Homo sapiens: one gene and its partners. The protein of the gene in region 1 interacts with the protein of each later gene in a biochemical or structural test. Each region holds a gene or a part of one and is shown in the gene's direction. Other genes may lie near its edges.

Region 1 (11,031 bases):
TTTTTAAAGAAATATTTAACACCTGTCAGCTATTGACATTGTTTCCTTCTTACACTTTTTCTTTATCTTGTAGTTCACTTTCTATTTCTGCCATAATAAAATATTCAGTATCGGAAACTTCACTTAAAAAGCAAAGGTTACTTCTCCTCCTCCCTTCCCAGTCTGCCCTATAAGCTAGTAAATTCATCATTCATTAGCTTAGATATTTTACAACATGGGGATTTTAGTTTACAGCAAATACTCTAAGTAAAATTGGTAGCTTAAGTACAACTTTTTCTTTTCACGTTACCATGTGCAATCAATGGCATTCCAGACTCTTGGAAGGAAATCCATTGTATGGTTGTGGTCTTTTTTTTTCCTTCTCAAACCAGTCAAAAATACCCAGTCACAATTTAAAAAATTATCCGCCCTTGGTGGTGCACGCCTGTAGTCCCAACTATTTGGGCTGAGGTGGGAGGGTCACTTGAGCCTGGCAGGTCAAGGCTGCAGTGAGCTATTGATTGTGCCATTGCACTTCAGCCTGGGCAACAGAGAGAGACCCTGTCTCAAAAAAAAAAAAAAAAAAAGACAAAACAATATAATGTGATCTACCCTCTAAGCAAATTTTCATATATACAATTTTACTATTGTATATGTGAGCTATTTATATATAAAATTTCATTTATCAGTTCAGTATTGTTAACTATATGAACTAGGTGTATGGTAGATCTCCATGGTTTATCTTGTTCAACTAAAACTTTGTATCCTTTGACCAATATATTTCCCCTTCCCCCTCAAGCCCTACCCTCTGATAACTACCTCTCTACTCTCTGCTTCTATGAGTTTGACTATTGTAGATTCTGCATTAGTCCATTCTCATGCTGTTAATGAAGACATACCTGAGACTGGTTAATTTATAAAGGAAAGAGGTTTAATGGACTCACAGTTCCACATGGCTGCGGAGGTTCCGACAGTCATGGCAGAAGGTAAAAGGAGGAGCAAAGTCACGTCTTACATGACAGCAGGCAAGAAGAGAGCCCGAGCAGGGAAACTCCCATTTATTAAAACATCTGATCTCGTGAGACTTATTCACTATCAGGAGGACAGCATGGGAAAACCCACCCCCATGATTCAGTTACCTCCCACCTGGTCTCTCCCACAACACGTGGGGATTATGGGAGCCACACTTCAAGATTAGACTTGGGTGGGGACACAGCCAAGCCATGTCAGATTCCTTGTATAAGTGAGATCATGCAATATTTAATATTTGTTTTTCTGTGCCTATCTTATTTCACTGAACATAATGGCCTCCAGTTCCATCCATGTTGCTGCAAATGCCAGAGTTTCCTTCTTTTTTAGGGCTGAATGGTATTCCATCGTGTATATGTACCATGTTTTCTTTATCCATTTGCCCTTGGACGGACACTGAGGTTGTTTCCACGCCTTGGCTGTTGTGAATAGTGCTGTCATAAACATGGGAGTGCAGGTGTCTGGAAGATCCTGGTTCTCTTGGGTTTTGCAATCTAGCATAAAGCAGGCACAGGAGTACCAGCCAATGAATGGATAGGTAAATGGATCAATATTGATCGGTGAGATTTGCTCGTCAACAGATGTTGGTTCCTCAGAAGGATACACTTCCAAACCATCCTTTCTCTGAATGTCAGTTTCTGAGAAGCCTCTCTGCTGTTTGGGGTGGGTGTGATCACATAATACGGGAGGGCAGTTTTGTTTTAGTTGCTCATCTCTGTCTGCAGCTGTGAATGCGTTGTTTAAAAATATTGCTGAGGAATGACTTGCATGTCAGTAAGGGGCTGCTGACGCTGGGATCAAGGTACGTCAAAGGCAATTTAGGGATACTCTAGAAATCCTGCATCAGTTGCAGTGGCTCATGCCTGTAGTCCCAGCACTTTGGGAGGCCGAAGCAGGAGGATCACTTGAGCCCAGGAGTTCAAGGCTAGCCTGAGCAACGCAGTGTGACCCCCTCTTTACAAAAAGTACAAAAATTAACTGGGTAGGCTGAGGCGGGAAGATTGCTTGAGCCCAGGAGGTAGAGGCTACAGTGAGCTGTGATGGCGCCACTGCACTATTCGTTCCATTAACCCAAGAACATTTATGCTACGTGAAGAATATTTCAATATGTGCGTGAACACGTGCACACCTTGTAGGATCAGTGTGTTACAGGAAGAGGAGGAGGATGAAGAGGAAGAAGAGGAGAGGGAGGAGGAGAAAGGAGGAGGAGGAACAAGCAAAGCTTGTTTAGAGATTTTGATTTTCTTTTATATCTCATTGACTATTAGATTTCTTCATTTACATGCACCCCAGTGGGAGGAAGAGGAGGGAGAGGAGGAGGAGATGGAGGAGGAGGAAGAAGTGGAAAAGAAAAGGATGTAGAGGAGAAGGAAGAGATGAAAGAGAAGGAGGAGAAGATTGAGGAAGAGAAAAAAGAGAAGGAAGAGATGGAGGAGGGGAAGGAGGAGAAGAGAGTGTTTGGATTGAAAATGTCCCAGCAGAATACAGTAGAGCTATTGGTTTTCTTTTATATTTGTAGTGGTTGCAGTTGTTGTTGTTGTTTTGTTTTCTGTTTGTGGGCACCTATATAGCACTTCATCCCAACCCACGCCAGATTGTAGAATACGGACTCCGTACTTTGAGCAAGCCTTAATGTGCGTTAAGGAAACAGCCGTGTTGAGGAGGGCTGTGTGTTTTACACCCTGTCTGTATTTCTGATAAAACCAGAGAGCCTGAAGAGAAAAAGGCATGTTATATAAATACATTTACTATTACTCTAATGCTTCTCCATGTGGGTGTGTGGGGCGTGTGGGTGTGCTGTGTGCGAAGACTGATCTGCAGAAATTATGGCCAGTTTGTCCCCAAATTGAGGAACCATTCAGAGGCAGATGGCTCTCTCTGTCTCCCTCTCTCTCCCTCTTTCTCTCTCTGCAATTTCTGTATTCAGTGGAAAATTCCAGGTGAGCGCCTCTCACTAAATGCCATCAGCCCACGTGCACCATGACACAAAGTCTCTGAAAGTTTCACTTGGGGTCTGTGTTTGCCGTCCTGGTGCAGCCCCCCGCTGATTGCATGGCTGTGGTGGTTTCTTCCTTTGTCGGAAGACTTAATGACCTCTGTCGATTTCTTCTCTCTCCAGGCACTGGGACGTTCGGGCGGGTGCACCTGGTGAAGGAGAAGACAGCCAAGCATTTCTTCGCCCTCAAGGTGATGAGCATTCCCGACGTCATCCGCCTAAAGCAGGAGCAACACGTACACAATGAGAAGTCTGTCCTGAAGGAAGTCAGCCACCCGTTCCTCATCAGGCTGTGAGTCCCCTCCTGAAGCCTCTCCCCACGCACTCTCCCTAGACCCCTGTGTGTCTCTTCTTATAAGAAGCTGGGTGGGCCGAGACCATGGCCTGCGTGCAAAGCCTTAGGCCACAGCAGTCTCCACCTGTCAGGTCTTATCAGCCTCTGATCTTAGAGCTGGAATACCTCCAGGGCTCCTGACCTCCATGGCTGACCAGGTCCAAAAAGAAACGCTCTGTGTTCAGAAGTCCGTGCCCAAGGCCCCTTGCTCCTCTCCTGGGTGAACCAAGTATCTCTGCCCGGAAAAGGATGCAGAAATCTTTGTCTCCTCACCTCCTTGGGTTCTGCATCTATAGCTCTCGGCAGAACTGGTTAAGTTGGTTTTTAAGGGACCACAGTCACGTGGACGGGGCTGGGCTTCAGGTTTCGTTGGGTTTCTGGTTGACTGTGGATGAGAGATACCCCGTTGAGATGCAGCCCACACACTTCCAGCTGATGGTACACAACAGTCTTATGTCCTAGGGTAGGTGTGATAGTCCATTCAGGCTGCTATAACAAAGGATCCTAGACTCGGTAATTTACAAATGACAGACATTTGCCTCATGGTTCTGGAGGCTGGAAAGTCCAAGATCAAGACACGGTGGATTCAGTGTCTGGCGAGGACCCGCTTCCTGGTTCATAGATGGCGCCTTTTCACTGTGTCCTCACATGGTGGAAGGGGTGAGGGATCTCTCTGGGGTCCCTTTTATAAGGGCACTCGTCCCATTCATGAGACTTCACCCTCATGACCTCCCAAAGGACACAACACCTAACACCATCACCTTGGGGGTGAGGATCCAACATAGGGATTTGGGAGGACACAAGATATTCAGACCATTCCAGCAGGGTAATTCCATTTCCACCCAGATGCCTTAGACAAGGATGTCCTGCGTGTCTCTCCTTTCCCTCCATGGGTGCCTTCCATCCAATTCCCACGTCTTCCCTCCGCCATCTTGCTACCATGCCTCTCCTGTCCACCTATCCATCTTCTGCTTTATCTGGGTCCCGTCTCTCTGCCCTGATTTTCTGTACTGGCTTCCCTCCTACCTGGTCTTTCTCTCCCAGCCTTGCTCCCCTTGAAGACATTCCTCACTTTATAGCCTCACTGGTCCTCCCAGGTACCTCTGCAATGACCTGCCTCTCTCCTTTCATCCTCAGGGTACTCCTGAAGTATCCCATATAAAGCCCCAGCAATGCAGCATCCTCCTACCAGTATCCTCGTGGACTGGCCCCCTGCCACCACCTCCCTACAGGAGAAGGTAGAAGGTGCTGTTCACACACTCATTCCGGGGCTTCTCCCAGGCCACCCTTCTTTGACAGGCCTCCTTCTTTGCTCTCATCATTGTCCTTCACTTCCCCCATCTAAGAAACACCTACCTGTTTTCCCTCATTCACCTGCTGTCCCCGGGACACAGGGTGCCTCCCATCATGTTCTTGAAGCACCTCGTGTGTACTGGAACAAGTGCACCTGCCTTCTCCTCTAGACCCAATGCTGCCTAAGCTCCGAACAAAATCATATGCAGAGGATGGGCGCGGTGGCTCCCTTCCTCCCTTCCTTTCTTCCTTTCTGCATTTCTCTTTCTTTCTTGACAGGGTCTCACTCCTTCTTGCCCAGGCTGGAATTCAGTGGCACAATCATGGCCCACTGCAGCCTCTGCCGCCTCCCAACTAGTTGAGACTACAGGTATATGCCACCATGCCTGACCAACTTTTAAAAGTTTTTGTAGGATGAAGTCTTGCTGTGTTGCCCAGGCTGGTCTCAAACTCCTGGCCTGAAGCAGTCCTCCAGCCTCAGCCTCCCAAAGTGCTGGGATTGCAGGTGTCAGCCCCTGCACCTGGACTGAGAATGCATGTCTGTTGTCTGCCGCGTCCCTCCACCCCAACCCCCAGTTTGTGGTACTTTGTTAATGATAGCCCTGAGGAACTCACACACACCCCCTGCGCCTCCTGGAGCAGGAGAGCAGCCGAGACGATGGGCTCCTGAGTACTCTACAGTTCAGAAATCTAAAATCCCACAGAAGAACCGCATGGACATGGGAGTGGGTGGAGTATACAAGTGAGAGAATTCCCCAGGATGGAATTCTTGAGCTCCCGCAAGTTAAAAAATAGGGAGGAGCTTGTAGAACAGAGCTTTAGTTAGGTAGTTCTCCTTTCTTCAAGGCAGGATAGCTCAAGACTGTTTTCCTTGGCAGATAAGGTGCATTCCTGCAGGGACGTGGATTCTGATTTTGATATTCCCTGCTTTCAATTAAGGAACAAAGTCGTTTATATTTCTTAAGTCTTATATAAAGCCCTAGAGACTTTAGAAATTCTATTCAAAGTTACCTATGTTGGTTTATTTTTATCTTTTATATAAAAAAGTATATATATAGATTTACATTTAGAGACGGGTTTTGCTCTGTGGCCCATCTTGGAGTGCAATGGTGCAATCACAGCTCACTGCGGCCCCAACCTCCCGGGCTTAAGCCATCCTCCTTCCTCAGCCTCCAGAGTAGCCGGGACTACAGGCACCCATCACTACACCCTGCTAATGTTTTTATTTATTTTTAATTTTTAAAAAACATATGTATATATTTTTCACAACCTCTTTGGTGAAGATAATGTTTTTGTTTTTTCTCTATGAACAGGGTCTTGCTATGTTGCCCAGGCTGGTCTTGAACTTTAGGCTGCAAGCAATCCACTTGCCTTGGCCTCCTGACATGCTGGGATTACAGGTGTGCACCACCACACCTACCTCATTTTAAAATTTTCTGTAGAGATGGGATCTTACTTTGCTGCCCAGGCTAGTCTCAAACTCCTGGGCTCAAATGATCTTCCCACCTCGGCCTCCCAACATGCTGAGATTATAGATGTGAGCCACCGTGCCTGGCCTATTTCTAACTTTTAAGGAGTGAAATTTCTCTGCACCGTGACAGCTTTTGAAGAGGACATTTTGGATGCTTCATGGGTTGTCCTTTGCCCGTACAGCTCACCGGCTCCTCCGAGTGCTGGTTACAGTCGAATGTGAGCTGTTATTTGTATGTCAGGTCCGCCTGGTGGTGTTGCCAAAAAGCATGAATTTTTCCTCATCATTTAAAGTCTACATGGAATTTAAGGCCACTTTCGATATTATTCTTGGGAGGATTTTATTCAGTGTTTTGGGAGAACATGGCAGGGGCTCATTTCAGAATTCTCTGATTTGGGGCCGAGCTCGGTGGCTCACACCTGTAATCCCTGCATTTTTGGAGGCCAAGGCGGAAGGATCACTTGAGACCAGGAGTTCCAGACCAGCCTGGGCAACATAGTGAGATCTCGTCTCTTAAGAAAAAAAATTAAAAAGAAAATTCTAGCCTGGCCAATATGGGGAAACCCTGTCTCTACTAAAAATACAAAAATTAGCTGGGCGTGGTGGCGCACGTCTATAACCCAGCTACTTGGGAGGCTGGGGCACTAGAATCTCTTGAGCCTGGGAGGCAGAGCTTGCAGTGAGCCAAGATCGTGCCACTGCACTGCAGCCTGGGTGACAGAGCAAGACTTTGTCTCAAAAAATAATAATAAATAAAAATAAATAAATAAATACAGTTCTTTGATTTTGAAATAGTGCAGAAAACAAGGCAGGCCCTGAAGTCCACAGCTCTCATGAAAAGTTTTGGATCTAGGGAAGTGATTGTCAACAATGAGCCTTTAAAGACTTAATGGTGATAGCAATTTACAGGTGACTTTTCCCAAAAAATGACAGAAAATGAGTTTGCCACTTGGGCATGTTGACTCACACTTATAATCCCAGCATTTTAGGAAGCTGAGGTGGGAGTGTCCCTTGCACCCAGGAGTTTGAGACCAGCCTGGGCAACATGGCAAGACCCTGTCTCTACAAAAAGTACAAAAATTAGCTGGGTGTGGTGGGGGGGCCTGTAGTCCCTGCTACTCAGGAGGCTGAGGTAGGGGGATCGCTTGATCCTGGGAGGCGGAGATTGCAGTGAGCCGAGATTGTGCCACTGCACTCCAGCCTGGGGGACAGAGCAAGACCCTGTCTCAAAAAAGAATCCGAAAAACAATGTAGACTTGGAGGGGGTGATGTAACTTAGCCCATGAGACCGCCTTAGTGACTTGCTGATAATTGATCTTTCGGTGCCCTGCAGTATTATGATAACCTGCTATAGCATTTTGCTTTTTCTGTGCATTAACACTTTAGGGACCAAGTGGCTTTAAGAACTGGATTAAAGTTGATCCAGTGCATTCAGACACTTGGCATTCCCTGTACATAACACGAGAGAGCACGCCGGGTCTGGCCAGCCCCATGGATAAGATGCTGGAGGGTGTCCAACGTTGCATGCTGAGGAGCATGTCTTAGAGGAGAATCCTAGATCCTCTGTGAAGAATGAATTTCATCCTCCCAGCTGTGCAGCTTCTCTTCTAAATGTAAGTTGCCTTGCTCAACATCTGCTTCCCATACGGGCAGTTTTAGGCCTTGGACTTCTTGATGAAGGTATAAAACGAGGACTTTCAGCGGAGGTGCCTCCCATTTATGGCTGGAGGAGTCTCTGGGGTGGGGCCGTCCTGCACACTTCAGGGTGTTGGGGAGTGTCCCTGGGCTCCACCCACCAGCGGCCAGGAGCAGCAACCTCAGTTATGAAAAGCAGAAATGTCTCCATACATAACCAAGTGTTCCTTCAGGGAGGGAGGGCAAAGTTTTCTCCACTAGTGAACCACTGTGATAGACAGACGACGGACAGAGAGAGATGATAGATACGATAGGTAGGTATATGTTGAGATGGATAGGTGATAGATAATAGATATTAAGATAGGTGTAAATGATGGGTGATTGATAGGTGAGTAGATAGATGATGGGTAGCTAATAGATGATATTAAGATAGGTGATAGATAATAGATACTAATATATACAGCTATAGATGATAGATGATATTGAGGTGGGTAGGTGATTGATTGATAGATTAATGACCGATTGCATGTAGGCAGAGCTCTCATGCTAAAAGAGAGTTTCTCAACCTCAGCAGTGCTGACACATGGGGCGGGATCATGGAGGACTCTGTGGTGGGGCATCCTGTGCACTGTAGGGTGTTGAGCAGCGTCCCTGGACTCCACCCAGCAGATGCCAAGAGCACCCATCCCATCTATGACGAGTATCTAAAGATGTCTCTAGATACTGCTAAGTTCCCCCTATGGGGGGACAAAAAGTTATCCCCAGTTGTGAACCACTGTGACAGATAGTTGATGGATGGATGGATGGATGGATGGATGGATGGATGGATGGATGGATGGAGATCAACATTGAGACAGATATTTGATAGATGACAGATATTGAGGTAGATGATAGCTATAGATGATAGATGGTTGATAGATATTAGATAAGTGATTGATAGATGATAGCTATAGATGATAGCTGATTGATAGATAGCTGGTAGCTATAGATGGTAGATGGTTGATAGATATTGAGATAGATAGGTGATTGATTGATAGATTGATGATGGAACGTATTAGTAGAGTTTCTCAACCTCAGCACTGCTGACATTTGGGGCTGGAGGATTCTCTGCGGTGGAACCGCCCTGTGCACTGTAGGGTGCTGAGCAATGTCTCTGGGCTCCACCCACCAGATGCCTCTAGCACCCCCACTCCAGCGTGACAGCCAAAGATGTCTCCAGACATTGTCCAGTGTTTATTGTGGGGAGCAGAATCAGCTCCATTGACACCCACTGTAGCGGATGCACAGACAGATAAATACCTGTGCGTGTGGAGTCCCTTTCTCCCTTTTCTGCCCCAGCCCCTGAGCCTGCAGCCCCACTCTTCTGTCATGATTGATTGGCTTATGGGCCAAACAGTGGTTCCAGTGCCATATTATCTATGGCACAGCAGCCGAGCCAAGCCAGTGGGTTTGGTCTGTGGTTGCAGGGCTTAGCCAGCTTTCTTCTACAGAACTTGGAAGGCAAGAGGTCTCTCCACTCCGGGCCACATCCTTCTAGTTCCTGGATGACCGCTCGTTTCTCCATGGAGAGGAGTTCATGCCAGAACCTCTTCTTCGGGGAGAGTGGATGCATCTCTTGGAAACATCTTTTTTTAAAGTCTGCAGACTTGAGTGTGGTCCCCATTGTCATTGGTACTTGTTGGGGGTAGGAGTAAAATCATTCCTTTGTTTTACTGAGAGTTCAGGAAGAAAGAACACCATGTTCTCTCCTTTTATTTATTTATTTATTTTGCTCTCTATTTGAATTTTAAAGGCAAAAATCTAGAAATAGCGCTTCTTGCTCTGTCATCACTGCCTGCAAAGCACAGAGACCAGAGTGAAGGCAGGCAGCTCCTGGGTCTTCTCTTCCTCTTCTTTGTCCAAAAAATGATACATTGCATGTTTAGTATTTGGGGCAAAGCAGACGCTTCAAAAAGGGAGGCTTATTTTATTATCTATATTTTTCTTTTTTATTATTTTTTACCTTGATTCCCTTTTTCTATGTATGAAAAGGGAGGTTTAAGTTCTTGCAAGAGAATGCAACTGTAGTGTCTTCTGAATGGAGTTTTCCATTTGATGCCAAGCCTTCCAGTGCCTTGGTCTAAGGAGAACTGCGTAGGGTGAGAAGAGTCCCAGCGATACGTGGAAAAGGGGCCTTACCAGCTCTGGAGGGCAAGAGGTAGGGGGTGAAGACGCAGTGGACACCTAAGGAGAATTTTGCAGGAGGAGTAGGGGTTTATTGGCTGAAAGGGGTGGGTGGTGGAAACTCATTCTAGACAGGGAGTGACACGGAAGCCATGGGTCACTACGGGGCAGGAGGGACATGGGGGAGAAACTCAAATCTGAGTTCAGCCAGGAGGTGGACACAGGAATGCAGTGAACCCAGATGTGTAGGAGACTGCCATGGGGACTGGGGTATGAGGAAGGACTGGCTCTGGCTCGGCTGTGCATATAAGGAAGGACTGGCTCTGGCTCAGCTGTGCATTTGGGCTGCTGGACAGTGAGGAGATCCAGGGAGAGAGAGTGCATTCCAATTTGGGAAACTTTGAGGGCAAAACATCTGCAGCAACTGTCTCAGAAGAGAGCCTGAGGCAGGGTCCTTGGAGGGAGGAAGCCACAGGTGGATGGAGCCACCGAGGGCTGCTAGGTCACCTTGGTTAAGGGCTAGTTGCAGTGCAGCCAGGTCGGAAAGTAGAGCCGTTCTGGAGCCTCACATGGCATAGATGTTGGAGGAGATGGGATGAGGATGGCTCATTTTCTTCTTCTCACCACAAAAGCCCAGCTTTATGGCGGGCTCTGGAGAGAGGAGGACCAACTTCTACGGTAAGGCGTCTCCAAATTAGTGAGGCTGATTTGCCTGTTCATAAAAACAAAAACAAAAGCAAAAAAATCCCTTAGAGGACAAGCCATCCCCGCAGACCCTGCAAATAAAAGACTGCAGATCAGCTTCGCGGATGGAAAAGTGCTGCTGTCAGCTAAAGATGAGGACAGAGCTGCTCAGCTGAGGTCACTGGAGAGGATGGGGAGGGGACTTGGAAACCTCCCTTGTCTCAGTCGTTGTTGACGACATTGACTCTTTCTTCATGTTGACTTTCCCCCCGTTCATAGATTCATAGATTGCTCTCTATGCTGGAAAACATTCTTTAAAATTTAATTTTTTTATTTTGTTAACATATATCACATAACAGTTTACTATTTTAACTTCCTTTTTTTTTTTTTTTTTTTTTAAAAGAAATGAGGTCTTGCTCTGTTGCCCAGGCTGCAGTGTACTGGTGC
Region 2 (7,436 bases), on another chromosome or scaffold:
AACTCTGCTACCTACTTGGTGTGTGATCTGTAACAAATTACTTAACCTCTCTGTTTCCTCCTCTAAAAATATGGGTCTAGGAAGAATAAAACCTTCTTCACTGTGTTGTTGGGGGGATATGATGAAATACTGATGTGCTTGGCACAGGGATAAGTATGGAGTTCAGTTAAGTGGGGGATTTTATTTCAACCACTCTACAAATATTTATTGAGTGCCCACTATGTGACAGGCATTGAATTAGGGACCAGGAAGAAGAAATGGGGCAAGTGCTGTCTTATGTGATTTAGCTTTTCAATGGCACAGGCAGAATGGCATCAAATGGCCTGTTTCTGACTCCACTGCCTCCACGCTGCTGTGGGTGGCCTGGGCCTGCTACTTTCACCATCTCATCCCTTGTGGAGCTTACATCCCAAAGGTAGAGGGGAACAGATAAAAGATTGTACGGTTTTGAATTGGGACAAGCCCAGTAAAGAGGAAGCATAGAGTGCTTTGGGGAAAATACTGGAATAAGAGAGTGGGGACACATTTGAATCTGAGGGGGTCAGAGTTACTTGTGAGTTACTTTGTGAGTAACTCGGGTGCAGAGACCTGTGGATAAGCATCAGGGACCCCACCTTCTTCCTTTCCTCTCTTTTCTCTACATCCCTAGGGATTTGGAGCTTGCTCTCCAGTCTGGCAGCCTCGAGGGAGGGTGTACTTAGGTCATAGCATAGCCCTGCCCTGCTGGGCCCCGCCATACACACCCTCTAGTGGCCACAGCGCATGCCAGGCACTAGGCTGGATGGGCCCTAGGAATCCAAGGACAGCAGGACTGTCACTGCTCTTCCCATCCTGACATTATCTCCACTCAGATGCAGTGGCCCTGTAAGGAGGGCTGCTTCTAGGTCCTCTTGTCACTTAATTTTGTCAGCCACCTCCAGCATGATTCTTATTTCCACTGCACAGATGAGAATCCCAAGGCTCATAAAGTTGAGGGAGGTAAGTAGGGTCAGTACTGAATTTAGGCCCACTGGACTCTGGTTTCAGTGAGCTTCAGGTGGCATCGTTCCTGAGCACATCAGGAACGATGCCACATCTCCCAGTGAGCAAGAGATGATGCCAGATTTTGCCATTACTGCCCAGCAAAGAAGGCAGATCCCCCCAGAAAGGTCACTGCTTCAATCTCTCCTTGGTCTGAGGCTGTTGGGGCATCTCTCAGGGCACTTCCCCAGGAACTCTGCAGATTGGGATGCCATGGTACCTCAGAGAGGCATGGGGGTGGAAGTGGGAAGAAGGGAGCCCCTAGGGGTACGTGCTGAGCATCTGTAGAAGCACACACATCCCTGCCCTCAGGAGGTCCTGCAGGTTACCTGCTGGTAATCCTTCCTGCCCGGCCCATTTCCTTTGCTTCCCATTACACAAGCATACCCCTTCTTCAGCCAAACTGGCTGGGTTTTAATCCGGCATCGGCTACTAATTATAAGCTTGTGCAAGTTACTTTTGGCAAGCCTTTGTGCCTCAGTGTCTTTATCTATAAAATGGTGATAATAGGCCGGACGTGGTGGCTCACACCTATAATCCCAACACTTTGGGAGGCTAGGGCCGGCAGATCTCTTCAGGCAGGTCAGGAGTTCGAGACCAGCCTGGTCAACATGGTAAAGCCCCGTCTCTACTAAAAATACAAAAATTTGCTGGGCATGGTGGCGCATGCCTGTAGTTCCAGCTACTTGGCGGGGCTGAGGCAGGAGAATCACTTGAACCCGGGAGGTGGAGGTTGCAGTGAGCCAAGATCGCACCACTGCACTCCAGGCTGGGGATAGAGTGAGACTCCGTCTCAAAAAATAAGCAAAAAATGGTGGTAACAGGCCGGGCGTGGTGGCTCACGCTTATAATCCCAACACTTTGGGAGGCCGAGGCAGGCGGATCACTTCAGGCAGGTCAGGAGTTCGAGACCAGCCTGGCCAACATGGTGAAACCACGTCTCTACTAAAAATACAAAAATTAGCCGGGCATAGTGGTGCATGCCTATAGTTCCAGCTATTTGGGAGGCTGAGGCACGAGAATCACTTGAGTGCAGAGCTGAGATCCCACCACTGCACTCCAGTCTGGGGACAGAGCAAGGCTCTGTCTCAAAAAAATAAATACATTAAATAAAAAATAAAAATAAAATGGTGTTAACAACCACAGCTATCCCCAAAACGTTGTATTCTGGGGCCTCAACCCCTGACACTTTGATTCAGCAGGTGGACCTTTGAACCACATTTTGGAAATCCCTGCCTAAAGAGTATAGTCTGGCATCACAGACCTACACACCACTTCCAGCCAGAGGATGAGCAGGCGTGCTGGTTCATGCCTCTCTGGTTTTAGCATGTTAGCATTGTCAATGTCATCCTCGTTTTAGTGGCAAGTTACATGAGTGAGCTCCTGTGCCTCAGTTTTCCTCATCTGTAACTGGAGATAATAATAGTAACTATGTTAAGTCCTTATATATTAATAATAATAGTACCTATGTTAAGTGTTGTGAGCGTTAACTAAGTCCTGGAACATTGCCTTGCCCATAGTAACGACTCAATACGCACGAACTATTATTATTGTAATACACAGTCAAAGATAATCCACAAAGAGCATACACGGGGATAAAAGAAAATACACTGAGTTTCTGTTTGTATTTTAAGATGTATTAATTTCCCCATGGGCGAAAAGTGACTGAAAGGGGCCACAAGACAGGCTTCTGGGGTGCAGGTCAGGTTGCTTTTTGGGTGCTGGTGACATCATGTGTGTTTGTTCACGTGTGAAAATTCATCCTGCTGTTCGCTTGCGATTTGTGCATTTAACGTGCACTATCTCCAGGGACCTTCGTGGTTCTGTGAAGCACGAAGGGCAAGCATCCTCATCCGCGGTTTCAAACAAGAAACTGAGGCTAGGACCGCTACTTTAATTTGGCCAAAGTAGTAGGGGATGGGTGTGAGGAAGTGTCTCAGTCCGATCTTTCTTTCGGGGAGCAACGGCCACTCTCAGAGAGCGCAGCGCGAACAGTACCTGGTTCCAGGTAAAGCTCAGCAAAGGGTTCTGAATCCTCCTTGCAAATGCCACCCTTCCCCCAGCGCACACAGACTCTGGGCACGGCCGGGGGTTCGCACCGCCGCGCACTCCCCAGGCTAGCTCCACGCGTGGTCACTCTCCAGGGAGACCCGCCCGCCGGCGCCCCGCGGTCACCGCGGGGGAATGGCGCCCAGCCCCGGGCCAATGAGAGTAGCGGAATTTCTTTCATTCAGCGCGGGGCCAGGCTCCTGCCCGGAAAGGGGCGGGGCGCCGCGCCGGGGGTGGGGCCGCCGCGCGCGGGGGGAGAGGGCGGGGCCGGCCCCTCTGCCTGGCCAATCGGCGCCGCGCCCGGGGGGGGAGGGGGGCCCAGGCCTTTTTTCCCCTCCGCGCGGGACCAATCCCGACTTTACAAGCTTGAACTTTTGCCACCCTCGGACTAGCGAGCGCGCCCGAGGAGGTACCCCGCCGCGCCGGCTCCAGGGGCAGGAGCGGCCTTAACCCTTCCCGCGCCGGGCGTCAGGCTGCTGCCGCCGCGCCCCCGATCCCGCCCCCAACCCACCCCCATTTTCGCGTGGAAACCTCTCTAGGGAAAGCGTGATCCCTCACCTACAGCCCTCTCCGAGGTGCGGAGAGTAAACTTGAGAAGGGAGAGGAAGCACCCGGCCTGGAGGGGGCCCGGCCGGCCGGCGGCCCGCCTCGCTCCAAGGGAGGGCCGTGGCGACCGAGAGGAGCCAGCGAGTAGACACTCCCCGCCTCTACCCCACCCTCTCCATCTCCCCACTCCGGGCGAGCCTGGAGCCACCGTACGCAAAGCGTCCTGAGCTCCCTGTTTGGCCCGGCAGAGCGACCCCCGACTTTGTGCAAGGAGCGTAGAGCCCCTAGTGCAGTCACGGAAGATCCGCTACCCCAACATATCCGCCGCCCCCTGCTCCTCAGAGGCTCAACCCTGGAAGGCACACATGCACACCCATTTTTATTAGCCTACCCTAGGATGGGGGTTTGGAACAACTTTAAAGTGCAAAGTGTGTTTGTAAGTTTGTGCACAAGCCAGGGAGAGGCAAAGCGCCCCGTTTGCGTCCGAGTCTCAGTGGGTCCGCCGAGCCTTGCGCGCCTGCTCGTGGCTCGTGTAACCCTGTGTGTGTGTGTGTGTGTGTCCGCGCGCGCGTGTGTGCTCGCTCGCATCCGTGCTCTGGGCGCAACGCGAGGCAGAAAGCGGGCCGCGGGCGCTGTCAGGCCCTGGGCGGGGGTGCCGGGGTGGTGTGGGGCGGGGGCCCGAGCTCGGCCCGCCCCGGGAGCCGGCCCCTTGGAGCCTCCGGCCCTGCAATGGGACGTGTTCTCCTTTAAGAGTTAAGAAACTTGAAACCTTGTTTGCGCAACAATCAGCGCCGCGGAGCCGCCAAAGTGTCTAGACTGGCATATGATGGGAGGCAGCCAATGACTCCGCGGCGCTCCTCCGGGGGCCCTCAGTGTGCGTTTGAGGAGAACAAAAAAGAGAGAGAGAGCCGAGCGGGGGAGCGATCGAGGGAGCTGAGCCGAGAGAAAGAGCCGCCGGGCGCTGCCTCGCCAGACCTCGCTGGGACCCCGGGGCCACCGGGAGGCACTTTTGTGGAGGGGGGAGGGGGGGCGACCTCGGCAGCCTCGGCGCACGAAGCGTCCGAGGGCAGCGTGGGGCGGGCTGCGACCTCTGCATCGGTGGACTGCATTTTTAATTAAGGATTCCCAGCAGCTCTTTGGGATTTTTACAGCTTCCACTCATGTGTTGACACCCGCGTCCAGGAGAAACTCGCTCCAAGTGCATCTAGCGCCTGGGACCTGAGACGGCGTTGGCCTTTCGTGCATGCAAATCCAGGGATTTAGGTTTTGTTTGGGATTTCCTTTTCTTTCTTTCCTTTTTTTTTTCTTTTTGCAGGGAGTAAGAAGGGAGCTGGGGGTATCAACAAGCCTGCCTTTCGGATCCTGCGGGAAAAGCCCATGTAGTTAAGCGCTTTGGTTTAAAAAAAAGGCAAGGTAAAGGCAGGGCTTTCCAGACACATTTAGGGGTTCGCGCGAGCGCTTTGTGCTCATGGACCAGCCGCACAACTTTTGAAGGCTCGCCGGCCCATGTGGGGTCTTTCTGGCGGCGCGCCGCCTGCAGCCCCCCTAAAGCGCGGGGGCTGGAGTTGTTGAGCAGCCCCGCCGCTGTGGTCCATGTAGCCGCTGGCCGCGCGCGGACTGCGGCTCGGCGTGCGCGTGTTCCCGGCCGTCCCGCCTCGGCGAGCTCCCTCATGTTGTCGCCCTGCGGCGCCCCTTCGACGACAGGCTGTGCGCGGTCTGCACGGCGCTCCGCGGCGGAGCTTCATGTGGGGCTGCGACCCGCGCAGCCGGCGCCTCGCTGAGGGAACGGACCCCCGGTAACCGGAGACCGCCTCCCCCCCACCCCTGGCGCCAAAGGATATCGTATGTTCAGGTCCAAACGCTCGGGGCTGGTGCGGCGACTTTGGCGAAGTCGTGTGGTCCCCGACCGGGAGGAAGGCGGCAGCGGCGGCGGCGGTGGCGGCGACGAGGATGGGAGCTTGGGCAGCCGAGCTGAGCCGGCCCCGCGGGCAAGAGAGGGCGGAGGCTGCGGCCGCTCCGAAGTCCGCCCGGTAGCCCCGCGGCGGCCCCGGGACGCAGTGGGACAGCGAGGCGCCCAGGGCGCGGGGAGGCGCCGGCGCGCAGGGGGCCCCCCGAGGCCCATGTCGGAGCCAGGGGCCGGCGCTGGGAGCTCCCTGCTGGACGTGGCGGAGCCGGGAGGCCCGGGCTGGCTGCCCGAGAGTGACTGCGAGACGGTGACCTGCTGTCTCTTTTCGGAGCGGGACGCCGCCGGCGCGCCCCGGGACGCCAGCGACCCCCTGGCCGGGGCGGCCCTGGAGCCGGCGGGCGGCGGGCGGAGTCGCGAAGCGCGCTCGCGGCTGCTGCTGCTGGAGCAGGAACTCAAAACCGTCACGTACTCGCTGCTGAAGCGGCTCAAGGAGCGCTCGCTGGACACGCTGCTGGAGGCGGTGGAGTCCCGCGGCGGCGTGCCGGGCGGCTGCGTGCTGGTGCCGCGCGCCGACCTCCGCCTGGGCGGCCAGCCCGCGCCGCCGCAGCTGCTGCTCGGCCGCCTCTTTCGCTGGCCCGACCTGCAGCACGCCGTGGAGCTGAAGCCCCTGTGCGGCTGCCACAGCTTCGCCGCCGCCGCCGACGGCCCTACCGTGTGCTGCAACCCCTACCACTTCAGCCGGCTCTGCGGGCCCGGTGAGCGCGCTGCGCCGGCCGGGGGGGCCCCGGGTCCCCGTCCCCATCCCCTTCCGTGCCCTTCTCTCTGTGACACTGCGGGTCGGCGCAGCTGCGGGTGCTCCCCCGGGTGCCCTTGGAGCGTGGGAGCCACCAGGGGAGGCGCCTCAGACCGGCCGAGGGGAGTGGGTGTCCCAGCACACACATCAAGTGGCAACTTTATCTCAAGGCTCCGGTAAACTTAAAAGGGTACATGTCGTAGTTTTCTCTGTGCAGTTTCAGGGACATGATGTAGGCTCCAACTTCATAGGCAGTGAAAGGGGAGGGCAGGCCAAGGAGAGACCAAAGAAGTAGGTGCTATTTCCTCCTACCTCAATTCCGGAATCTACCCCAGTCTGTGCCCAGGCTTCTAGCATTTGTATGCACGTGCCCTTACCCACACTGTGCTTTTCTATGTCCAAGTAGCTGTAAGTTGTGAAATTGGGTGTACACAAATCATAGCTAGAATCAAAAGTGTTCGTCAAATGTCCAATTTGTGCCTTTGCATACTTTCGACAAAGCTTTGCAGGGTAACCCCTCTCTGGAGTAAAGAGCACCCTCTTTATTCCCCACATAATATCATTCCCCACATCCCTTGGGTGTCAAGTGCCAGGGTCTTCCATAGTCCTTCTCAAGTTTTGTGTTCAGCTTTTGTATAGAGTTTAGGGTCTTGGAGGCATCCGTGAGTAGATGAAGAAGCCAGATACTGGATTACCTCTGAGAACTGCCCCCCTTCTTTGTTCTCCTCTTGGGATTTCCTGCACACGCCCCACCCTCAGCCTTGCTTACCTGGCCAGGCCCTGGTGCTCAGGTGCAGACAGGCAGAGGCCCCAGCAGGTCAGGAGGCTCCAGCAGGCCAGGAGCTTGCAGCTGCCTTGCTCTGACCTCTGTCTTGTGGGGAACACACACTTTAGCCTGTAGCTAGCCTCTGAGGGATGTATGGGAATCCATTAGCTGGCACTGGGGTTTTGCAGGGGTGGGACTGGCAGGGAGTCACAGGCTCTTGAGCCTGGGAGGGCTCTGAATCCCTCCATTCTGGCTTCCCTGGGGAGAGTCAGCACCCAGGCTGGGAGCACAGAGAGGGTCAGGTTGTAGGTCTCCTGACTCTGTGTGGAAGGGGAAAGTGGGTCTAGGATGGTGCA
Region 3 (11,031 bases), on another chromosome or scaffold:
TGGTGATTAACATTTGGCTCCTTGTTACTTATGTGAATTTCTGCGGCAGGCTTGAATTTCTCCCCAGAAAATGGGATTTTCTTTTCTATTGCTTTGTCAGGCTGCAAATTTTTCAAGCTCTGCTTCCTCTTGAATGCTTTCCTGCTTAGAAATTTCTTCCACCGGATACCCTAAATCATTTCTCTCAAGTTCAAAGTTCCACAGATTTCTAGGGCAGGGCCAAAATACTGCCAGTCTCTTTGCATAGCGAGAGTCACCTTTACTCCAGTTCTCAAGTTCCTCATCTCCATCTGAGACCACCTTAGCCTGGACTTCATTGTCCATATTACTATCAGCATTTTGGTCAAAGCCGTACAAGAAATCTCTAGGAAGTTCCAAACTTTCCCACATTTTCCTGTCTTCTTCTGAGCCCTCCAGACTGTTCCACCCTCTTCCTGTTACCCAGTTCCAAAGTTGCTTCTGCATTTTTGGGTATCCTTGTAACAGCACCCCACGCTCTGTGTACCATTTTACTGTATTAGTCTGTTCTCATGCTGCTAATAAAAGACATACCCAAGACTGGGTAATTTATAAAGGAAAGTGGTTTGACTCACAGTTCCTCATGGCTGGGCAGGCCTCGGGAAGCTACAATCATGGCAGAAGGGGAAGCAAACACATTCTTCTTCACATGGCAGCAGCAAGGAGAAGGGTCAAGCAAAAGGGGGAAAAGCCCCTCAAAACTGTCAGATGTCATGAGAGCTCACTATCACCAGAACAGCATGGAGGTAACCACCCCTGTGATTAAATTACCTCCCACCAGGTCCCTCCCACAATATGTGGGGATTATGGGAACTATAATTCAAGATGAGATTTGGGTGGGGACACAGCCAAACCATATCAGTCTGAAAATACAGTCATATTCTCATCACCTTCTTCGTCATTACTGGGGGGTTGTGTTTCTGTTACCTTCAACTACTCCATAAGAAATGTACCAAAAACTCTTGACAGTTGGTCTTTTGAAAGCTTCTGCATTTTAATTCAGTCATCTGGAATTTGAGTCTTCTTTTACTCTTGTATTTATTAGACCCTTAGGTAAGAGGAATTAAAATAACAGTGACCTTGTGTCTGCTGTGTCAGGTACTGTGTGAAGCACTTTATATACATAAATACTCGTTATTTCAAATGTACGAGGTATGTGATTTTCAGCATTTTATAGACATAGCAGTAAAACTGAGAGAAATTAAGTAATGTGGCTGTGGTTATAGACTGTAGTCGTCAGCTTTTGCTGGAGCAACATACAACCCCCAAATTTCAGTGGTTACTACAACAGACCAGTCATGTGCAGTTCTTCTGGTATCAGCCTGTCTTATGTTCTTGACACCACATATCTTGTTCTGGGGCTGAGCAGAAGGAGCAGCCCTATATAGGGCATGCTGTTCTCAAAGCAGAGGGAGGGCAGAAGCTCAAGGTGGACAGAGCCAAACCACACAGGCAACCATGGTATGGCATGTCCACTTACATTCCATGGCCAGAGCAAGTCCTGTAGCCAAGCCTTAAGTCAGTGGGGTGGGAAGTATACTTTACCCACAGGGAAGAGTGACAGAAGCAGGGAGGGAACAAATAATCGGGAAAACATAGTAGTGGGGACAGAATTTGAACCTAAGAGTCAAGAAGATAGTGCAGAATTTAATGCAAAACCGAATGCAGAATTTGAACCTCAGAGTCAAGAACATAATTAACCACTGAGTAGACTGGGAGGTTTTTTCTAATTTTTAATTTTTTATTGATATATAACATTTGTATGTTTTTATGGAGTACATGTGATATTTTACAGGCATAGAATGTGTAATGATCACGTCAAGGTATTTAGGTTATTCATCACCTCACTTAAAGAGCTGAGGAGGAAGGAGACTGACAGAAGGATGACAACAGCAAGAGAAAGGATATAAAAATATATCATAGTATATACTAGAAAACTCATGATCTGAGTAATGGCTCTGAGTTGTCAGATTAGGTTATATTCAGATTGCTGTTTTTAAAAGACTCACTAGAATCCATGAGACACTGCTAAAATCAGAATGCTTTTGTTACTTCAAAATTAATCTTAAAAATTCAGTGAAGTAGAATGTAGTCCCAAGTGAAATGTTATTTGTGAAATTTTTCCTGAAATTTTTGTGAAATGTCAGTGACAAATTTGGGGGTGGGAGAATTTGTGTTTTCATTTATACTCTTAAACTGTGTGTGTGTTTTATTTTATTTTTATTATTATTTTTTTGAGACAGTCTTGCTCTGTCACCCAGGCTGGACTGCAGTGGTGCAATCTCGGCTCACTGCAACCTCTGCCTCCTGGGTTCAGGCGATTCTCCTGCCTCTGCCTCCTGAGTAGCTGGGGCTACAGGTGCCTGCCACCACACCTGGCTAATTTTTGTATTTTTAGTAGAGATGGGGTTTCACCATAATGGCCAGTCTGGTCTTGAACTCCTGACCTTGTGGTCTGCCCACCTTGGCCTCCCGAAGTGTTGGGATTACAGGTGTGAGCCACCATGCCTGGCCTATTTTTTGAGACAGGATCTCACTCTGTTGCCCAGGCCTGAGTGCAGTGGTGCGATCATGGCTCACTGCAGTCTCTACCTTCCAGGCTCAGGTGATCCTCCTGCCTCAGCTTCCCAAGTAGCTGGGACTACAGGTGTGTGCCACCACGCCCAACTAATTTTTATGTGTTTTTGTAGAGATGAGGTTTTACAATGTTGCCTAGGCGGGTCTCGAACTCCTGGACTCAAGTGATCTGCCACCTTCGGCCTCCCAAAGGGTTGTGATTATAGGCGTAAGCCACTGTACCCAGTCATGTATTCTTAAACTTTAAACTTGGGAGAGACTTGAGTTTTATACCTGTGTTAATATGAAATGAGAAAACCTTACTGGTTATTGGAACAACCAGAATTAACATGAAATGAGTTTTCTAAAAACCATATTTTAAAAAGTAGGTTACATATTCACATATTTCAAAGTTGTGCAGGTACAAAGGGGCATAATAATGAAAGGTCTCCCTCCCACGCCATTGCTTTTCTTGAATGCTGCCAATGTTCTGGAGATTAATATATGGGCACTTACAAATTTATATATAGAAAAGAAATAACGGGTCAAATGAATGAGAAAGTAGAAGATAACACATTTTTATTTTTTCCCTTTTACTTCAGGCACAACAACTAATTCTTTAGATCTGAGAGGAATTTGTTTTTAAGGCTCTAGATGTGAAAAAAGGAATGTTTAATAGTTTATCTTAGGTTTTATTTGAATTGGTCCAATAAGTAGTTTTTAAAAGCAAGTAAACTCTTTTTGTCTTTTAACTTCAAGTTTAAACCTTGATTACAAAGAGTGATCCTAGCTCTGCTGGGAGAAGTATTATAGATACGATCTCGTTTAAATTCGTGGTTACCATCACATCATTTCATTATTTGTTTTTATCTGGGATCAAACTGGAATGTGAATTCCACAGGCTCAGGACCCTCTCCTATTTGTTTTTAATTTCCTGTTGCCTAGCATAGGTCTTGGCCTGGCAGATCCAGAAAATGGCTTATTGAGTTAATGAAATAACTCAGTAATCTAGACATTCTTGGATCACTATGTTGGGCTTGAATTGTTTTTCCTGATAACATTTCTTTTGGCAGGAGGGTCTCTTGCTATCTGCAGTAGCATCCAAAAAAACCCAATTTTCAGGATTTTGTCTTGCAGTGTGTTACTGTTGTGTGCATCACAGATAATTGTTGTCAAGACATTAATGAATATCTGATTTGTTACTCACATGTTATGTGAGTACTAATGGCTTGTACTAATGACTTTTGCCCATTAATAAAGGATAGCATCTGTTATCATCTGAGGTACATTCTGTTGAGAGTGTTTCAAGTGTTACTCTCTTTTTTTCCCCTTTGGAATTGGTGTTTTCCTCTTAACTTACATTGTTAATGGAAGAAGAGATTGGAAGTGACTGAGATAGACTATCATTGGAACATGAGAGTGCCAGCTTTACATGCCGAAGGATCTCATTTTGCAAACTCGTAATTTCTTTCAGGAGGAGGCAAAACAGATTCAGAATCTGCAGAAAGCAGGCACTCGTACAGACTCAAGGGAGGATGAGATTTCTCCTCCTCCACCCAACCCAGTGGTTAAAGGTAGGAGGCGACGAGGTGCTATCAGCGCTGAGGTCTACACGGAGGAAGATGCGGCATCCTATGTTAGAAAGGTAGTTTTGATATTTGAATATCGGGGGGATGCTTTTGGGACCCACTTGGTGGTCATCTAGTCTCCTTTGATGAATGAATCATAAAATACAAAACAGGGTGGAACTTCATCCATCCTGTACAATTCTTGGGTACTGGAAAACAGGTTTCTGTAATAGCATGCTGTCAGAGGAAATAACTAATAGTGATTATGAACTAGTGAATAATTGCATTTTGGGGTTTGTTATTTCCTTGCAGTTGTTTTGCAGTAGAAGGAGGTGGGCGGTATTGCTTTTTCTCTTGAATCGTGATGTCCTTTTTTTGCTATCCTATTAAATGTTGTGGCTTTTAACCTTTTATTCTACGAGCCTCATTTGTCCTGTGTTCTCCTCTTCCTCAGAGCCAGGCTATTTTGAGTTATGCTGTTAGCCTTAAAGGGGAACAGAATTGTCCTGGCACTTGAGGCTTGTGAAGCTAACAGATCACAGATTTTTAAAATGACTAATTATTATAAAATACTTAGTTTTGCCTCAGAATAATGACCTTGGTCCAGGTGTTTTGATTTGTTTCTTTAGTTGTTAACTGGGAACCAAGTACCAGACTTTATATTTAGGCCTGGCTGTAGGCAAGGGGATTAATTAGTCAATACTTGTTGAGTAGTTTATGGATCAAAGATAGTACAAGTGTGTTGTAGTGAAACACTACAAAGCAGTCTTGTTTAAATACCATAATGTGGCTTGACATTTAATTGAAGCGCAGGTTGCAAACGTGAAATGTTTTTGGTTTATGGAATTGTCATTTGACCTTCAGTTCTTTTCTAGGTTATACCAAAAGATTACAAGACAATGGCCGCTTTAGCCAAAGCCATTGAAAAGAATGTGCTGTTTTCACATCTTGATGATAATGAGAGAAGGTAGGAACAGGCTCTTTCTTAACACTATTTTTCAAGTAAGGGTGTGATCCCAAATTGTTTTCAACACTTGTTGCAAGTTTTAGAGCTCTTAGTAATTGTTCACCAGATGACAGTCTGGGGTCTTTAATTCTAAGCTTAATGTTTGAAATTCACGGAAGAGACATGTGAAATGTAACACGAGGCCTTCTCTCTTTTGCAGTGATATTTTTGATGCCATGTTTTCGGTCTCCTTTATCGCAGGAGAGACTGTGATTCAGCAAGGTAAGGGCCTCTGGAGCATGCAATATTGTTACGGGAGAGGAGGCGAGACTAGAGGATTTTTTTGGTTTTGTTTTATTGAAGTTTGTTTTCCTCTTTGATCCTACCACTTTTTTTTTTCTGTTATACTATTGGATTTTTCTATTTCTTTTAAATTAAGATTTTCTGAGATGGACAGAACACTTTGTATTGGGAACTAATATTTTTGATACAGTTTTGTTTATAATTTAAAGGAAATGCCTACATTGTCTTACCTTGAATGTCATATAGAATTGCAGAATCATATATATCTCTCATGTTCTTTATATTGTTAATCACTTTTAAAGTAAGAAATAAATGAAACACCTACATTCTTCATTGTATAGCCCTGTCTATTAAAAAGGTTCTAGGACTTCTATAGATTCTTACTTTGCCTATATAGACTAACATGGATCTAACTTTTTGACTATCTTCCTCTTTTTATTTTCTTATTTATTCTTGACATTTTATGAGTGGGTATATATTTTCATTTTGTGGCAGCCTGATAATTTGTTATTAACTATTTGAGTTGTTTCTAATGTCCTTGTTATAAATGCCATAGCAGTTAATAACTACACATATGTAGCTTTTAAAAATTTTTTTCAGAGGTATTCTTCACCATGAGATGACTAAAAAAATTTTGATTAATTCTATGACTTTTAAAATATGTTGCTTGATTTTCTTTCCCCTGAAAGATTGTGTTAGTTTGTAACACACTCTCACAGTACCACTGTAAAATAAGTTTATTGTTTTGTAATAATTTTGATAATTTCTTTCTTTAATTTGGAATATGCTTCTAACTTTTTTACCCTCTTTTAGGTGATGAAGGGGATAACTTCTATGTGATTGATCAAGGAGAGACGGATGTAAGATTTACCAATATCAAAAATATGTTGATCTTAAAAGCCAATGTATTGATCGCTTCCGAGCAATAAGAATAGTGATTTTGAAGGGTCATTACATCCCTTGTATGTCAGATTTTATTAATACCTTTTGCCAAGTATTTTTATGACACAGAGAAACTCTTTAAAGGTAATTTTCTGTTCAGAACTTTGCTGGAGTGGTGGTGAAGAAGTGTGTGTAGCTGGGTGCAGTGGCCGATGCCTATAATCCCAGCACTTTGGGAGATGGAGGCAAGAGGGTTGCTTGAGCCCAGGAGTTCAAGACCAGCCTGGGCAACAAAGTGAAACCTCATCTCTTAAAAAAAAAAAAAAAAAAAGATTCTAGACCCAGCCATTAGCTAGCAAAATTAATATACCTTTCTTATTCACAAATGAAATGGGGACAATAATAGCATTGATCTTTTAGGATTATTAGAAGATTCAGTGACCTAATGCAAGTAAAATGTTTAGCATAGTGCTCAGCACGGTTCTCTAAGTATCTGTGACTGGTATTAGTGCTTAGCTGACCTTTTTCCCTTACATCCTTACAGAGTGCTTTTTTCTTATCAGATAATTAAATCAGGTAAATTATAGACACTCTTAACTCATTTAACTCGTCAGAAATCACCTATTCTTCTCTGTTGTGTACTGCAAACATAATATATTCTGTTTTTTAAAACAAAGTTCAGGATTGTGACCTTTTAAAAAGGTTTGAGGGTTTTTAACATTTAAGTGTTTGTATCTAGAAAATAAACTTTTTTGATGTCACTTGCACTTTAGGTCTATGTTAACAATGAATGGGCAACCAGTGTTGGGGAAGGAGGGAGCTTTGGAGAACTTGCTTTGATTTATGGAACACCGAGAGCAGCCACTGTCAAAGCAAAGACAAATGTGAAATTGTGGGGCATCGACCGAGACAGCTATAGAAGAATCCTCATGGTAAGAGACCATGGTGTTTGAGAGTGTGATTTAGAATTCTCATCTACGTAACTAATGTTTGAATATTACCAAATTAAAAAGAGAATATTTCTTTTAATGAGCAAATATTTCTTTCTTTTAATAAGCGAATATTTTTCTTTTAATGAGCAAATACTTTGCATTAAGCCCAGCTTAGCATTATTCATTATGCCATTTTAGGCAGTGATATTTTAGAACAAAACCTTGGGAAACAAGATCTGGTATATATGTGCTGGTCATCTCATGTTTGGAAATCTATCCATTTGCTGGTAGGCACATCTTAATTTACCTAGTTATACCCATTACAGCATGATAGGTGCTGCTTTTAAGTGCTTAAAGTTATTTGGGGCCATTCAGAAATAATCAGCTTCCCTAACCTGTGAAAGTGGGTTATCAGTAATGTATATGTATGTCATGTCCCCTCTCGTTAAAGGAATAAACAAAATACTAAAACCATTGGAACTTTCTGGTGATAGTCAGATTTTTTGAGAACGTTGTGATAAATTTATAGGATAGCTTTGGATGTTTAAGTCTCAGCCAATGCATTGGTCATTTTTAATGGTTTTCTTAAATTTGTGCAGTGTCCATCTGACCATTTGAAAATGTACAGCCTGATGTACTTTGAAATTTTTCTGCATTTGGGATATATAGATAGATTAGATTAGATAGATAGTCTTGTCCTTCGCAGCAACATAGATAGAGCTGGAGGCCATTTTTCTAAGCAAAATAACACAGGAACAGAAAACCAAACCACATGTTCTCACTTACAGTTGGGAGCTAAGCAATGAGAACACGTGGATACTAGAAGGGGAACAACAAACACTGGGGCCTACTTGAGGGTGGAGGGTGGGAAGAGGGAGAGGATCAGGAAAAATACCTGTGGTGTACTTTACTTATTACCTGGGCAACAAAATTACCTGAACACCAAACCCCTGTGACACCCAGTTTACCTATATAACCTGCACATGTACCCCTGAACCTTAAACCCACACACACAAAAAAACGCTTATGGCAAAGATAAGTCTAAATTTTAGAAAGATTGGTTTTGAAGTGATGTGACAGTCTACTGGAGAAGAAACTGACCATACAGTTAGTTCTGCATTTCCTCTACAGGAATACTATTAGTAAAAGGAAACATAGAATGTTTACAGCTTTATCTCATTGTCAAAGAAGGAAGAGGTAGGACCTGGAACTATTGGTTTGAAATAAAATATTTTACTTTCTCATAGTGGGCCTGAAAGGAAATTAGGGCCTCACAATGCTTTGGCTTTGTGGACAGGAATTAGGAACTGTAGATATGGGGTGAAATATCTATATAGCTGGGTAGGGGAGGATATGGTCCTTTTTTTATAGAATAAAGACATGTCAATTGTATAGGTGAGAAGCCAGAACTAATGGAGGAATCTGCATTTAAATACCAGCGTTGAACAGGAAGAACACTAGGATTATTGGGTTGTAAATGACCTAGATTACTTTTGTGAGAAAATATTTTCAGAGATAAATTGGGTTGGCAGTGGCACAAAATCAGTTTGAGAGTAAACATGGAAATTGGACATTGGTTTAAAGTGTGTGGAAAAATATCTTGAGTGATAGGCTCAGGTATAAACCGGTATTTCGACTGTATTTGGAAGTTGGGAAATGCTTTGTGAAATATGTCAACATACTGGTTGCAAATGCTAGGAATTGGGCATAATATTGGCGGAAAATAAAAATCACAAGAATGTCATATCATTCATTACCTGTAAAATAAAAATGAATTAGTTAAAATTAAACTTTCCTCATTAAAAGCAACAAGCTTTGACTTTCTGGTTTTAAAATTTATTTGAAACTTAATATTTATTATTCCATAGCATTATGTGGTGATAATTACACGTCTTGGGGATATCACTTTTGTTATTTTTATTTTTAGGGAAGCACACTGAGAAAGCGGAAGATGTATGAGGAATTCCTTAGTAAAGTCTCTATTTTAGGTGAGTTGTAAAGTGTGTTAACTTTGCTAGTATGTGAGATACCCCTGAATTAGAATTGGATGGACTTGGGAAAAGCCTTCTGAAAGTATAATTGCTACTCATTCCCCCTGAAAAGACAGAAGGGCTGAAAGTCCTTCTGACTGTGGACATTCACAGTTATTTCCTCTGTGACTTCCCGTCTCTCTTGTTCCATCATTGAGTTGATTGGTTCAGAAAAGTGAGTACTTCCAACAATACATTTCCTCTGTGGAAAGATTAGGTATCATTTGCTGGCATCCTCTGAAAACATGCCAGAAGTTTGTTGAAATTTAGAGTAAAGCAGATTAATTGAAGATATTCTTTTGTGCATTTTGTTATGTGGACTTGGAGATGTTAGAACTTGTTCTTCATGAAAGGGGAATGGGGATTTTTATAAGGTAACAGGCTTCTGCCATTGTTTATTACAGTGAATTTTTCACCTCTTCTTTGTCTTTTCTTTGAATTGGTTACATATGCTTTGTGTTTTGGATAGTAGTTTGGCCTTTGGGAATAAAAGTTATTTTCTAGTTCTTTTTCATAAAGTAAACCAAGAATTTAAATAGATTAAATTATTTCTATGAAACTTTGGAACGATATGGATGGGGAAACTATGACTTTTGAGTATTGTAGTTGTAGGTTTGATTTGCATTGATGGCAATCTTCAGGAATACTTAAGGATTACATTTTCTTATTCCCTTGCCATTTGGTACAGTTGGTATAAATTAACCTAGCCACTGGGCTACCGAAGTAAGGATCTAAGGGCTATCTGCAGGCAGTATGAGAATCCTGCTCAGACTAGAGGTAATTGAAGACAGGTACCACTTTTAATCTGAGACACTACTAGAATGTTGAATGGGCATGGCTATTTGGTTGAATCTCTTTATACTTTCTTTTTACCTTTATAACAGCACCAAATAATACAGAGCAGTTATTTTGATTCTTGTCTTTCAGAGTCTCTGGACAAGTGGGAACGTCTTACGGTAGCTGATGCATTGGAACCAGTGCAGTTTGAAGATGGGCAGAAGATTGTGGTGCAGGGAGAACCAGGGGATGAGTTCTTCATTATTTTAGAGGTAAAGAACTCAGAATTTAATACTTGAATTTTAGAGGTAAAGAACTCAGAATTTAATACTTTAAAAAGTTGTACGCTCTAAGAGGGAAAGAGTGGGCTAATTCTGAACTATAGCTTTAGTTTTTAAGAATACCTGACCATTTTATTTTAAAATTATCTTTTACTTTGAAATGCTGTTGTTTGGTTTTCTGCCAGGTCACTATATTTTTAAATGAGTTTGAGTCAGAATTCTTGAAGGGCCCTAGACATGAAAAGCCAAATTCTAAAAACCATTTAACATAACAAACTGTGATGATTCTGCACTATTCTTGTTAAAATGCAAGTGTTTGGGCTATTTGGCAAATAAGGATTAAAGGTAATTATTTAAATTTGAAAAATTACTGTGTTTGTATATCTCCACATTCCATGGAAATGTATAGCAGATACTCTTGCTAAGCGGATCCAAGTGGCAGATTTCTATGAATGTGGCTCCATAGTTGCTAATTGATTTTATTTAAATCAGGGGTCAGGAGACTGTAAAGGGCCAGGTGGTAAGTAAGTTAAGCTTTGTGGACCATAGGGTTTCATTCGCAAAGTCTCAACTCTTGTCATAGTGCAAAAGCAGCCACAAATAATATGTAAATGAATGTATGTGGTATTTCAGTAAAGTTTGATTTGCGAAAGAGACAGTGAGCTTGGATTTAGCCCTTCATCTACAGTTTGCTAACCCAAGTGTGCACCCTTTAAGCACCTTAGCTTGATACGAAGA

The links.
Region 2: of the proteins of PRKX (region 1) and SMAD6, one has a biochemical effect on the other in vitro, tested with the Homo sapiens proteins (one study listed by IntAct).
Region 3: the proteins of PRKX (region 1) and PRKAR1A form a complex in vitro, tested with the Homo sapiens proteins (one study listed by BioGRID).

Annotation. Positions count from the first base shown.
Region 1 is NC_000023.11:3,666,863-3,677,893, reverse strand, and holds part of PRKX (cAMP-dependent protein kinase catalytic subunit PRKX), read left to right. Parts: intron 1-3,127; coding exon 3,128-3,296; intron 3,297-9,701; exon of another isoform or gene 9,702-9,960; intron 9,961-10,407; exon of another isoform or gene 10,408-10,612; intron 10,613-11,031. UniProt on the Homo sapiens protein: Serine/threonine protein kinase regulated by and mediating cAMP signaling in cells. Acts through phosphorylation of downstream targets that may include CREB, SMAD6 and PKD1 and has multiple functions in cellular differentiation and epithelial morphogenesis.
Region 2 is NC_000015.10:66,697,800-66,705,235, forward strand, and holds the start of SMAD6 (mothers against decapentaplegic homolog 6), read left to right. Parts: upstream 1-4,436; 5' UTR 4,437-5,459; coding exon 5,460-6,276; intron 6,277-6,292; exon of another isoform or gene 6,293-7,436. UniProt on the Homo sapiens protein: Transforming growth factor-beta superfamily receptors signaling occurs through the Smad family of intracellular mediators. SMAD6 is an inhibitory Smad (i-Smad) that negatively regulates signaling downstream of type I transforming growth factor-beta.
Region 3 is NC_000017.11:68,518,708-68,529,738, forward strand, and holds part of PRKAR1A (cAMP-dependent protein kinase type I-alpha regulatory subunit), read left to right. Parts: intron 1-4,048; coding exon 4,049-4,219; intron 4,220-5,017; coding exon 5,018-5,109; intron 5,110-5,308; coding exon 5,309-5,370; intron 5,371-6,204; coding exon 6,205-6,251; intron 6,252-7,046; coding exon 7,047-7,205; intron 7,206-9,132; coding exon 9,133-9,193; intron 9,194-10,162; coding exon 10,163-10,284; intron 10,285-11,031. UniProt on the Homo sapiens protein: Regulatory subunit of the cAMP-dependent protein kinases involved in cAMP signaling in cells.